4 separate regions of the Homo sapiens genome follow, and regions 1, 2 and 4 are each reported to be linked to region 3. The links are microRNA targets in miRTarBase. Many come from high-throughput screens and were not tested one by one. Region 3 holds a microRNA gene; each other region holds the end of a gene's coding sequence.
What was found. The annotated mature microRNA hsa-miR-651-5p reads UUUAGGAUAAGCUUGACUUUUG and lies in region 3 at 1,191-1,212, shown strand. An mRNA with a match to its seed (bases 2 to 7 or 8) in the 3' UTR can be bound and repressed. Matches are read on the target gene's strand: a 7mer-m8 pairs with bases 2 to 8, a 7mer-A1 pairs with bases 2 to 7 and ends in A, and an 8mer does both.

Region 1: miRTarBase lists SAMTOR as a target of hsa-miR-651-5p. Seed matches in the 3' UTR shown: 7mer-A1 at 2,433-2,439 and 8mer at 1,063-1,070.
Region 2: miRTarBase lists TMEM19 as a target of hsa-miR-651-5p. Seed matches in the 3' UTR shown: 7mer-m8 at 248-254 and 7mer-A1 at 2,449-2,455.
Region 4: miRTarBase lists PSMA2 as a target of hsa-miR-651-5p. Seed matches in the 3' UTR shown: 7mer-m8 at 2,434-2,440.

Annotation. Positions count from the first base shown.
Region 1 is chr7:112,819,273-112,822,456 of GRCh38, forward strand. It overlaps SAMTOR (S-adenosylmethionine sensor upstream of mTORC1), which reads right to left. Exons shown (of 5, transcript NM_152556.3): 5 at 1-3,101. The coding sequence ends at 2,472. Among named protein-coding and RNA genes, the nearest start is that of TMEM168, 30 kb to the left of the region's middle.
Region 2 is chr12:71,700,812-71,703,995 of GRCh38, forward strand. It overlaps TMEM19 (transmembrane protein 19), which reads left to right. Exons shown (of 6, transcript NM_018279.4): 6 at 21-3,184. The coding sequence ends at 184. Among named protein-coding and RNA genes, the nearest start is that of TMEM19, 16 kb to the left of the region's middle.
Region 3 is chrX:8,125,790-8,128,973 of GRCh38, forward strand. MIR651 (microRNA 651) reads left to right here and starts at 1,176; the gene lies at 1,176-1,272. The region is part of intron 1 of LOC107985675 (a long non-coding RNA gene); the gene reads left to right.
Region 4 is chr7:42,914,995-42,918,178 of GRCh38, forward strand. PSMA2 (proteasome 20S subunit alpha 2) reads right to left here. Exons shown (of 8, transcript NM_002787.5): 7 at 2,784-2,841; 8 at 1,867-2,696. The coding sequence ends at 2,580. Among named protein-coding and RNA genes, the nearest start is that of C7orf25, 4.5 kb to the left of the region's middle.

The DNA of each region.
Region 1 (3,184 bases), not on the chromosome of region 3:
TGATCTAGTCATGATACTGAAGAATCCAACCAAATGATTACCATTTGTTTTTGAAACAACCAAATTATTTTGGAGAACCAGCTGTGAATGTGACAGGAGGCCTCATAACTTCTTTATATCCAAAATGAAATAATTCTTAGGAGTACCCATACAGTATTAGAAGGCCCTATTAACTTCCACTTGTTATTACATACATGATCTGGCATCAAGCTGCAATGACTGCTTATACTTCAATACTTATACACTGAATTGGTTTTTGTGGAATGTGTATCAGTTTAAATCTGTGCCAACCTAATTGGAATAAGCTGAATTTACAGTAACAAATGATATAAATTCAAACAAATTTATACTAAGTGGTAGTAGGTTTTATAAAGAGACTTCCTCAGAGTACTACGTAAAATACATCATGCACACTTTGGAGCATAAGCAGAATCAACATCTGTAAACAATCAGAATTTATAGCACCAACATTTTCGCTGTAACACAAAGGCTGACTCCAGGGTCATACTATACCAGCCTTTCAAAAGCGCTGTTTTCATTTACTTTCAAAGCATTTTCATTTGGTGTATTGTTTTCTTTGCTCTTAAGATATTTACCCAAATCAAAAAGCAAACAGTATGGTAAAAGGTACTACCAAAATAGTTCAAAAGAGTTCTGTATTATCCTTAACATAGTGCTTTTTTTTCCTTCCCCTTCTCTTGGGGAAGCTACAAGACATAATCCTTCAGTGCTTAACTGGAAAGAACAGTCAATCCTAAATATTAAAGAATCTTATGCTGTTGAAAGTAAATGAAAAATTTCGAGTTATTTGTGGCATATTTGAGCAACCAATATTTATTGCATTTAATCAACTGACTTTAAAAAATTACAATCTTGTTACTTTCATTAATTTAGCATGTGAAATTTAATTAGAAATACTGGGTACATACACTCAACCATTTATATCATAAAGGATAAGTTTTATATTTCTAAATAAAGTTTGACATTCAAAGGTACTACGGCAATTCACAATAAGCACAAAAACATCAGCTTTACCAGAGTAAAGAAGTGCAGTTTATGAAATTTAGGATCAACTATTGAAAATGCAAGTTTCCTTTAAAAACATACAAACATACGCACAACATTAACCATGAAATCTGAAACTGTGATATTTCAGTGCAAAAACCTCAGTATGAGGTAATTTTAATGTAATAACCACTTGAAAAAAAAATCCACACAGTGGCACTCTTAAAAATGATAGCTTCCATGACAATTGCTGGCTGACAAGACAATGTGGACTAAATGTTCTTAACTGTTTAAACTAATCTTGTCTTGTTTGGACATATATTTTTCCCTAATCATTTGCTTCTGATTCAGAAACACAGAAAGGCATTTATTAATGTGGAAAGGGAAAATTCCCACAGCCAACTAATTGATATATTCAAAGAAAATTTTCTGATAAAGTTTAGATAGAAATTAAGATACCAAAAGGTCAAAACCATTTTATGAGATCACCAACAGAGGGTTAATTTTAGGTTTTTCCATATAATTTGAAACTTGTAGTGCGGCACCTCCTTAACGGAAAGGTGAGGACCCTATCAAAGTTGGTTTCAACAGAACATAAACTCTCTTCCAAGTGCAAACCCTTTCAAAAAGGTGTTTTAGGTCATTATTGAGTATTACATTGTTCCTTGCTTAAATAAAACATTTTGTAAATGAAGCCTAAGTTTAAGAAAAGTAAAAGTGAACTCTCAGGTAAATATACTTCACACCAAGGCCCAAATCAACAAGAAAGTTATGAAAATACTACTTTGGCAATGGTGTTTATTGGATAGGGCTAATAAAATTAGAATACACACTTTGGGGGACATCTCTCCCCCAATGTCTGATGCTGTCAAATGAGCTTTTAATATAAGGAAGAAATAAAAAGAATTATCACCAATTACAAAAAGTTCAGTAAATATTGGATCATCAGACAAAAAAGGAACATAAAATGACTTTCTGTAACATCACAATTTTAGTTAGAAAAAAGAAAAAGATAAGTGCATCACAAAACAACTAACCGATCTATTTTTCTGTATCACATTTAACTTGTGAGTCATCAAAGTGCAATCTACAGCTTTCTACATCTTAAAGTTTTCCATTCAATGGTTTATAGTCAACACTGAAAAGTTGAAAAGGAAAACATATAGCAAATTATGCTTGTTTTCACAATAGCACTAAAGAGAAAAAGGTACCTTTCTATGATAGTGCTAAATGCTAAAGTAACAGTAGTTTCTGCTATGACATGAGTCACTCTGCATGAAACTTTAAGCTTTCTATATAAGAATAAATTTTAAAATTGAGAAGTAGAAAAAAATAGCAAACTCTGTAAACCTCTGCATTTCTTTTATGCAAACCAGGTTTTCAGTACTGAGTTCATGTTAGTATTTCCAATTGGTGTAAGCAATTAGTTTAGGAGCCTGGACTGAAAGGGGCTTTTTGCTTCTATATTAACTTAAAAGTAATATGGGGTCTTCTAGCTCATAGAAAGGAATAGAGCTGGCTTGACTTTCTCCAGAATCTGAGTCATATGGCGCATCAGGGAGTTCTGTGAAACCATATGCTAGTTGTTCATCTTCTATATCTGATCGAACATAGCAGGAAGGGTTAGAATATTCCTCATCTTCTATACTGTTGAAATCTTGAGGAATATATAACATTCCTGGGTAGTTCCTACTAACCAAGTCACTTGTGGTTTTTAGAGAGATTTTCCTAAATGCCATCAGATGCATATGTGAAAATTTTGAGTACTTGAAGCGTTTAAAGCCCAGGGACTCTATAGCAATCTTCCAGCTTTTCATCATCATAGCATGACGGTTCTGATGGGAGGAATCAGGTGTGATGATTAGTAATAAACCATTTAACACTAACAGTTCATGGGCTTTCTTGCAGCAAATCCATCGCTGGTAAGGAGATGGAAAATAAGAAAGAAGGAGAGAGAAAACAACCACATGGAAAAGCTCTCCAGGAAGAGAATCAATAGGGTTTTTCAGCTGCTTCAAAAAAGCATCTATAGCATCCTGTGCAAGCTGGAGTGGTTGCTGAAGCTGTAAGTTCAGGAAATCACATTTATAGACACTCTGCAGAAACAGAAAACAAGGCATATTAAGAACTTCAAGATTATTTCCACTTTAGTACATAGACTTTTCAGCAAACCATTTCA
Region 2 (3,184 bases), not on the chromosome of region 3:
TGCTTCTTTTTCCATTCCAGGGTTGGATGAAAGCACTGGCATGGTGGTCAACAGCCCAACAAATAAGGCAAGGCACATAGCAGGGAAACCCATTCTTGATAACAACGCAGTGAATCTGTTTTCTTCTGTTCTTATTGCCCTCTTGCTCCCAACTGCTGCTTGGGGTTTTTGGCCCAGGGGGTGAACTTTATTTCATTTCCACAGGTTGAAACTGGTGAGTCCAGCTAAATTTGCAATTCCAACTTTCATCCTAAGAATAATAACTGTAATGGCAAAGCGGAAATGCCAGTTCCTCCTGTATTCCATTGAGATGGGATTTCACATTTTCCTCTCATCAACTCCCCTGTAATAGCTAGCGTCTTTCTAGTGAAAGAGAAGAATTCCTAGAACTTATGCATTTTTTTCCTGCTGAATGGAAGTCTTGAGCAATGAAGCTATATTGTCCCTACATATTACTATATATTGAACTGAAAGTTCTTACATAATCAATGTCAAGTTTTGTCTTATTTTGTTTTGTTTGTTTAAACCAGTGTAGGAAATAAAAGTGATGATATTTAAAATAGTTCTCAGTTGAAGCAGAGAAATGCCACTGTGCTAGTTGCCCAAATGTTGTATCTATTTTAAATAGTTTAAGCTGATGTGTATGGGAGCCTAAACAAGTGTAGTATCCTGAACTTCTCCCATTAATTGCTATTCACAATTGGGAAAAGTGTGGAGATTGGTTCCTAGTGAGTTTTGTGGCCTACTCCACATTTGTTCTTCCTTCCTCAGGGTTAGTGATGAAAAAAAGTAAATATCTTTTTCATATGTCCATTAGAATGTATGAAAAAAATCATTTTAACTAAAAGCAAAAGAATTTTATCTTATATCTAAAAAATATATAACTTACTATATGTTTCAGTTGCTCTCTGAACAAAAATTATCTTCAATTTAATATGTGGAATGTGTTTTCTAGCTTTCTTTGAATTATGTATGGCAACCTGGTTTAGCACTGGCATCCTGAACAGTTAAGAGTCACTGGGAAATTATTGTATTTCTTTATAAATTTACTGTCATATCAATTGCTGGAAAATGCTATGATTTTTCTATTATTACCTTCTAAGTTGTATTCTCTCTTACACTGTAGCCTCAACTAAGGCAATTCTGCTATGTTTGTTCTTCACTATGATTTACTGTGTGCCAAAGGAGTTTTGACAGGGTACAGAGTATTTTACTAAAAGTATTTTTAAATGTTTCTCATGTGATTTCTGTACCTTCTTCCTCCTGCCCCTTTTGCTTTTTTAAAGAAACTGGGGAAGGATTTATGAATACACCACCACCAGAGTGGATAATGCTTAGAATTCTTTATTGGTGGCCCTACTATGGTGATGATCTAGAACTGACTTACTTCAGGACAGAAGAAAAAACAATCACACCCTTAACCTTTAAGCCAGTTAGATCAGGGGGTTGCAACAATTGGGTTAAACTTTGGGTATACATTGGAAGCACCAGGGCATGTTTGCTTTTTTTGTTTATGTGTTTGTTTTTTGAGACAGAGTCTCACACTGTGGCCCAGGCTGGACTCCAGCACAGTGGCATGATCTCAGCTCCGCCTCCTGGGTTCACGTGATTCTCATGCCTCAGCCTCCCAAGTAGCTGGGATCACAGGCGTGCACCATCACGCCCGGCTAATTTTTGTATTTTCAGTAGAGACAGGGTTTCGCCACGTTGGCTAGGCTGGTCTCGAACTCCTGACCTCAAGTGATCTGCCCATCTCAGCCTCCCAAAGATCTATTACAAGATGTGAGCCACTGTGCCCAGCCACCAGGGCATGTTTTTAAAAAAGTACTGATGTCTGGGTTTCACACTGCAAAATTCTGATTTATCTGATCTAAGGTACAGCCTGGATATTGAGACTTTTTAAAGCTCTGACTGTACATTGAATCATCATGTAAGGAGTTTTTAAAACATTGTTGCCAGGGCCCCTTTCTAGACCAAGTTAGTCAGAATGTTGGACAATGAGGCCCATGCATGGGTATTTTTACAAAGCTCTCTGGGAGATTCTAATGCTTAACCAAATTGAGAAGCACTGAATAAGAATATCCTGGGCCGGGCGCACTGGCTCATGCCTGTAATCCCAGCATTTTGGAAGGCCGAGGCGGGTGGATCACTTGAGGTCAGGAGTTCGAGACCAGCCTGGCCAACATGGTGAAACACCGTCTCTACTAAAAATACAAAAAATTAGGTGTGGTGGTGCGTGCCTGTATTCCCAGCCACTCAGGAGGCTGAGGCAGGAGAATCGCTGGAACCTGGGATGTGGAGGTTGCAGTGAGCCAAGATTGCACCACTGTACTCCAGCCTGGGCAACAGAGGGAGACTCCATCTAGACTCCATCTCAAAAAAAAAAAAAAAAAAAAAAAAAAAAAAAAAAAAAAAGAATATTCTAAGCACTAGAACTACATAAGAATGTCCTAAAGCACTGTATCTAAGCACTTGAAAAGAATGGGACTTTTCGGTTTTAGGGAGATAACTATTAGCAACCACACAATATGTTATCTTTATGGATGAATAACTTCTGGTAATGACACAGTGTCTTACAGCTACATCATTTATAAAATCATGTGTCAGTTTTCACACAGCCTGCACATCGTTCTGACATGCCCTTTTTTTCCCTGGAGATTTATCCTCATGACATACAAGGGGACAAAAATATTTATTGGGACTGTCTTTGAATTTAGTAGAATCACTGTATCATTAACAGTTTGGGGAAGTACTGCTTTGCAGTCCTTTATTTGAAAACTTAGGTCTAGCTGTGTTTTGCATCAAAATTTTTGAGCTATTCAAAAACTAATAGGATCTGTGTAAAATATTTCACTCAAAACTACTAAAAAAAAGTCTGGGATGGCAGCTCATTATCAAATATACTCCTATTTTTGTGGTGATTTATGAACATCCCCACTAAGTATAACTAAAGATCATAAAGAGCCTCAGATCAAGTTTGGTCAGGTTTTGTCACCAAGCTTTGTAAATAAACTGGTTTTCATAGCTTTTTGGAGATGAGAATTGAGGATAAGAAATTGTGTCTCTGTCCTTTTTTTTTTTTTTTGTTAAGTCTTACATGTATTTTACTGTAACATCTTTTGAATTGGATATTTAACTAATTCAACATATTTTTCCTCTTTGCAGAATGGGCAGTTCATGTTAA
Region 3 (3,184 bases):
GCACAAATGCAGCAGCCTGTGGGGCACGGCAGGTGCAGGCTCTGGCTCAAGCCATGGTGGTGACGGGCTGGCAGCTTCAGGCTCCCAGAGTCCTGAGACAGCATCAGGGCCCTGGGCTCCTGCATTCCTGCAAGGTGGTGGTCTTGGTTCTAAGGCTGCCATGAATACTCTCAGAGCCTCAGTGGTGGGGGATTACGGGCTCTTGGTGAAACCATTTTCTCTTTCACTCCTTCAGCACAGAAGTGGTAGGAGCTTTCTGCAGTTCTTAATCTCTTGGCCATCTTACCTTCCCTTTCTACCTTCTTCTGGATCTCCTGCCCCTTTCTAAATGATTCATTTTCAATAGATTCCTTCTGTTGGAATGCATAGGGTGGTAATGCCTTCTTACCAGACCCTGCCAGAAGTAGTGAGCTAAGTCTTTTATTCTTATCATCTGCAATCAACAAGAGCCTCTCATGCATCATTACATTCATCATTTCATCACCAAACACATCATTGCATAATCAGACACGTCATTACATCATCACACACATCATTACCTCATATGTGCACCTCCCACTCTCCACCTAGACACAGGGAAGAGAGGAAGGCACCAGGAAATCAGAGTGGTAAAGAAAACTTCAGGAAATCAGGTGGTTTTAAGACCCTTTATTATGACTTAAATAAATTCTGAAATTAGTTTCTTTAAGGAAGGCCCCTAAACCGGGAATGAACATGAATAAGAATTATAGTCATTTTAGCGACCATAGTTTCCCCAGGAATTATTGCACTAAGGCATTTAAATTTTTTTCCAAATGCTAAAATATTTTGTCAGCTTTATTGACCATTCTTTCTAACCCCTCAGTAAATTATATCTCTATCTGAAGTGGAACATAGGAGATGCCCTAAGCTTCTCAAAGATGTTTTGTAACGATCTAGGTAAGGACTGTGTCTAATGGAAATGACAGGCATAATTTATTTGTGAAAGCAGAAATGAAATTCAACCTTGACAACAGATTGCGCATTTTTCCATAATGCCATGGAAGTGAAATTCTTGTGATGTAGATTAAATCGTGGAATTTGACTTATTGTTCAAAAACATTAGTTCAACTCTAAACAGTTGAATTACTCAGCAGCTGTGTACAAATGTATGATACAGATAACAAAATGTATTAACAATTCCCTAGATCTACAGAAATCTATCACTGCTTTTTAGGATAAGCTTGACTTTTGTTCAAATAAAAATGCAAAAGGAAAGTGTATCCTAAAAGGCAATGACAGTTTAATGTGTTTCTGACATGCAACCTTCAAGAGATCCATATATGAACCATTTTGTGTGGATAGTACAACTCTAAACATAATGTTATGTGGAAATTTGTATACAGAATATTTAGCAAAGAAGAGTCAGGATGAATAAAGTGAAAGGAAAGACTTTCCCAATGTTATTTTTTAAGTGATATGAGATGCATCAAGTGAGATGTGTTTGACAAAACTTTATTCAACGTTGATCCTGACAGAAAAGAAGCAGGAAAAAACAATTAATACACTTCCTATGTCTTGAAAAGTAGCAATTTTAATTTTATTGTGCATTTTGCTTGACGATTTTATATATGACTTCCAGTCAATATTTCATCTGGAGGACTGAGCAGGTATTATGATTCCCATTTTATGGCAGATTGCAAGGTGAATGTCACCTGTCATCAGCGCATACCTGGCCAGGGGCCACGTCTTCCAGATTCCAGCCCACACGGCATGGGTGCCTGCATTTCCCTGTTGCTCTTCTCCTCACACTGATATTAATGAAGCACATCTACTTTTAGTCAATAACCACTTTTATGTTACAGACACATAACAACTGGGAAATAAACATCTATATAATTAATCTCAACTAAGCCAGTTAACCCTTACTTTTTACCTAGGCTGTATGCTGAAATGTGTGCCTTTTCTATAAAGGGGTTTGTATTCCTCTCATTATATTGTATCAGGAGGAATCACTCTAAGATAAAACAGTTTATCTCCAAAAGTCTGCAGAAAATGTTGATAACAACCTGCAACTCTCTGGTAAAGGACTGTGAAATGCAAAACAAACCAAACCAAGCCCCAAGACCTACTCATGTAAGATGATGCTATGATACATTGCATTCATCTTTAGCTTTTTAGCCGTCTAAATTGTGTTCTATGAGAGTCTTAAATATCTTCCCTTTATCTCCTTAAGAAAGTCCTAAATTCTTAGCCAATTTTTTTTCCTTTTTTTTTTTTTTAAGAAAGGATCTCGCTCTGTTGCCCATTCTGGAGTGCAGTGGCACAATCTCGGCTCACTGCAACCTCCGCCTCCCGGGTTCAAGTGATCTTCTGCCTCAGCCTCTCGAGTAGCTGGGACCACAGGACTATAGGTGTGTGCCACCATGCCCAACTAATTTTTGTATTTTTAGTAGAGACAGGATTTCACCATGTTGGCCAGGCTGGTCTCAAACTCCTGATCTCAAGTGATCTTTCTGCCTCGGCCTCCCAAAGTGCTGGGATTACAGGTGTTAGCCACTGTGCCCGGCCCTTAGCTGGTCTTTGAGGACACAATACTGTCCTGTGCATTCTTTCCCAGACATGGCCTTACATCAACTGGAATCCCCAACCAGTCACTGTCTTGCATTGTTTTTTAAATACATTATAGTTTCCACTTTCTGGTACTGGTTCTTTTCCTTCTAGTTGCAAGTACCTGATACCTCTGTCTATAGCAACCTTTCTTCATGGCCCTGCTCAAATGCTCCATCCTCCACAAAGCATTCATTCATTGATTGCACCAGCCAGAAGTGAAGTCTGCATCCTAAGATTACATACAACTCTTTCTTCAAGCCCTTTATTCCAATCATATCCATACGGCTCTGGATTGTTTTCATGAATGTCCTTATCTAATCTCTCCTGAGAGACCCTAAATTCCCTTGGGAGAGGGACTTTATTTTAGAGCTAAGGCTGCCTTCAATCTTCTTTATTTAGTTATAGCTGCTATAAACCTTCTTTGACGTTAGAAAAAGCATACCAATATCTACCAATATTTAGTATTTATTAAGTTCCTGTTATATGTCAGGAATTCTGCAAAGGATTTTACATACGCTATTTCCATTTGCCTTAAGAGTTCTGCAAGATAGTATAAACCAAAAGGTATCTGAGACAGGTCTCAATCAATTTAGAAGTTTATTTTGCCACTGAG
Region 4 (3,184 bases), not on the chromosome of region 3:
TGAACATCAACTTGCTCTTCTTTGCAATGGGGGGCTCAGAGAGCTTGCCTACATGGGTGAGTAGACTCCTGAAAAAAAGGTGAGGTAAGTACTAAGAGTTGGCAGTTTCATTCTATGAAGAAAACTGAGCAATAGATGAAAACCCTTCAATGTTCACTTATCACCTACTTGATGCCTGAGAGACTGTGCAAGGTAATTATCTCAAGGTTGGGTTTTTTTTTTTTTCCTTCAGGGATGCTTGAGTGTTATCAGCACTTGATAATTATAAGGCTCTGTATTAGTATTCTTTATTGCCTGTGTATGTGAATTTTAAGCATCTCCATGTTTCACTGCTATTAATTGCTTTGCAAATTTAAATTCATGGTTCAGTAGAACTGGGAGGAAGTAGAACAAATGGAGTTAAAATGTTTTAAGGGTTAGAAGATACAAAATGAACCAAAAGGCAGAGGCTCTGAACATTAGAAACATTATGATACTTAAGCTAAAATCCACAGGCTGGAAATGGTTCAAGAGTTTTGGAATGTTTAGGAATGCAGTGGGTTGCTACATCAAAGAACTCTAAGAACTGGGACAAAAAGGAACAACTTAATTTTAAGGCCCGTGGAAAGAATAAACAGAACAAAGGGAGAAGTGTTGTAGGCAGCTTGAACTGGAACTGGGCTTTGCATTTAATGGGGGCAGGAGGTGGAAAACAGAACCTGGATCAAATCTGGTTCAGCTGATTTTTCCTCCCTTTATTCTTTAGGCCTAATTTTGTTAGCACACAATAAAAACCTACATGAGTTTTCCTTACCTCTGAAATATTAACATGCCTTTAATTTTCCCTTCTTTGATTTGTAGAATTTTGACATTGCTTTGCTCTTTTGATACTGGACATTATAGAAGGACTAAACAAAATCAACGGCAGTTAACAGAGTAACTATTAACCACACCAGGCTTTAACTTGTGTTATCAAATTTAGTCCTTAGGAAACCCTGAGATATGGCCGGGCAGAGCGGCTCATGCCTATAATCTCAGCACTTTGGGAGGCCAAGGCGGGTGAACCGCTTGAGCTGAGGAGTTGGAGACCAGTCTGGGCAACATGGTGAAACCCCGTCTCTACTAAAAATACAAAAATAAACCAAACATGGTGGTACGCGCCTGTAGTCCCAGCCACTCGGGAGGCTGAGGTAAAAGGATTGATCACCTGAGCCTGGGAGGATGAGGTTGCAGTGAGCCAAGATCACGCCACTGCACTCCCCCTGGGTGACAGAGAGATTGTCTCAAAAAACAAACCAACCAACCAACCCTGAGATAATTACCTCACATAGTCACTCAGCCAGTAAGTGAGATAGCTGAGACTTGACTTCAAAGACCTTTTTGCTACTATGTCCGCTTTCTAGTGTGCCAAAGTCAAAATATATCAAGAGCCCATAAGAGAGATTATTAGACAAGGCCAAGATAAACATCTTGAAACAGGAAGCCAAAGTTACCATCTTTCATCTCCTTAATGCTTTTGCCACCTAAAACAAGATATGGGTGTTATAGTGATGGTAGGGAACAGAACTGGGGACCCTGAGAAAAATCTCCAAAATAAGGTTCTTTTGCCCTTAACTAAATCTTAGAATCTTCTGAGCTCCATTTAAATCATGGAATTGCCCACTATACTTTCACGTTGGTAAGAATGATTATGCTTATAAACTCTCCTTATGTTCTGTAAACCAAATTAATGATTTTATCCTAAGTTGCCTTAAAAAAAATTTAAAAAAAAAAACCTAAGCACTGCCTTCATATGAGTGCAGATACTTAATTATAACTTTCATTATAGTGAAGCTATTTATTATACTGAGATTACATTAATGAATTAACAAGAGCCTTAAGCCATAGTTTTGACACTTAAGTATTAGCATTTTATTTCAAGCACTTATGCTCATCCTTGAGTTTAAAAAGTCTAACAAAATCTAAGAACCCGGGTTCCTTTAAACATGTTTACCTACTTGTGGAGACACCAACAGGAACCAGCAAACCATTGTTTATTTATTTACATAATGTATCTCCCATGGAGACCTATTTGGCTTACCACTCTTCATAGGCCTAGTACAATCTCATAGAGCACCCTAGGATTTCACTGATCAATACCTAATGGCACCTAAAAGTACCTATGCTTCTTTTCTTGTTCCATGAATCCGTGAAAGTCTGCAGATCCTCCCAGCTCTAGAAGCAGTCATGTTTTTTACCAAAATCAGCATTTTGCTTTATGGAAACACAGGCAACATCTGATAGCGAAGAGGGCATTAAGATTTGACTTAACCAAAATTGCCTGACAACGAAAAAGTCATTTCATCATTCTGCTTGGCAATGTAGTCTTCAGAAATCAACTGTGATAAAAAGCAGGAAATAACTGTTAAAATTTTAGCAACTCCTAAAAGGCTGGAAGGTGGGTTTAACAGTTTATTAGGATTTATAAGTGTCATTTTAAAAACAGTCGATTTAAACCATGTAGAAATAAGTATGCAAAAAGTCTGCAAAACAAAACATACTTTAAACATGTTTAAGTAGATAGATTATCTGAAATTCTGGATTTTTCAGTCACTTCATTGTTATGCTATGGCAGCCAAGTAATCCTTAACTTCAGTTGGAGTAAGCCTCCTAAATCCAGCTTCATTGCAGATTCCAACTTCTATGTTATCCTCTGTCATTTGCCCTTCAAAGCTTTCCTATTGAGGAGGGAGGAAAAAAGGTCAATTTTCTAAGCAGTTAATCATGAAATCATTATAAATCCAGTTGTTGAATACTGAGCTAACCTTTAGGGTTAAGATGGCTGTATGAATGGCATCTTCAAGTTCCAGATCTTCATTATATCTGAAGAATTTAAAAAAAATTACTTATATCATTGTTTATATTCTTTATAACTATTTAAATACAATGACAGCAACAACGTAAGTTTTTAAAACTCTAAACATCTTAAAAATACTAAATTACACATTCTTTTAATCACCTCCTTGTAGCTGTCTCCAGATTAAAAAAACTGACAATATCTGGTGCTCAATTCCCAACATCATGAACGGTATGACCCTAAAATGAGTTTAGTTTAGGAAACTTTTTTTTTTTTTTTTGAGACACAGTTATCTTGGCTTACTGCAAGCTCCACCTCCCGGGCTCATGCCATTCTCCTGCCTCAGCCTCCCAAGTAGCTGGGACTACA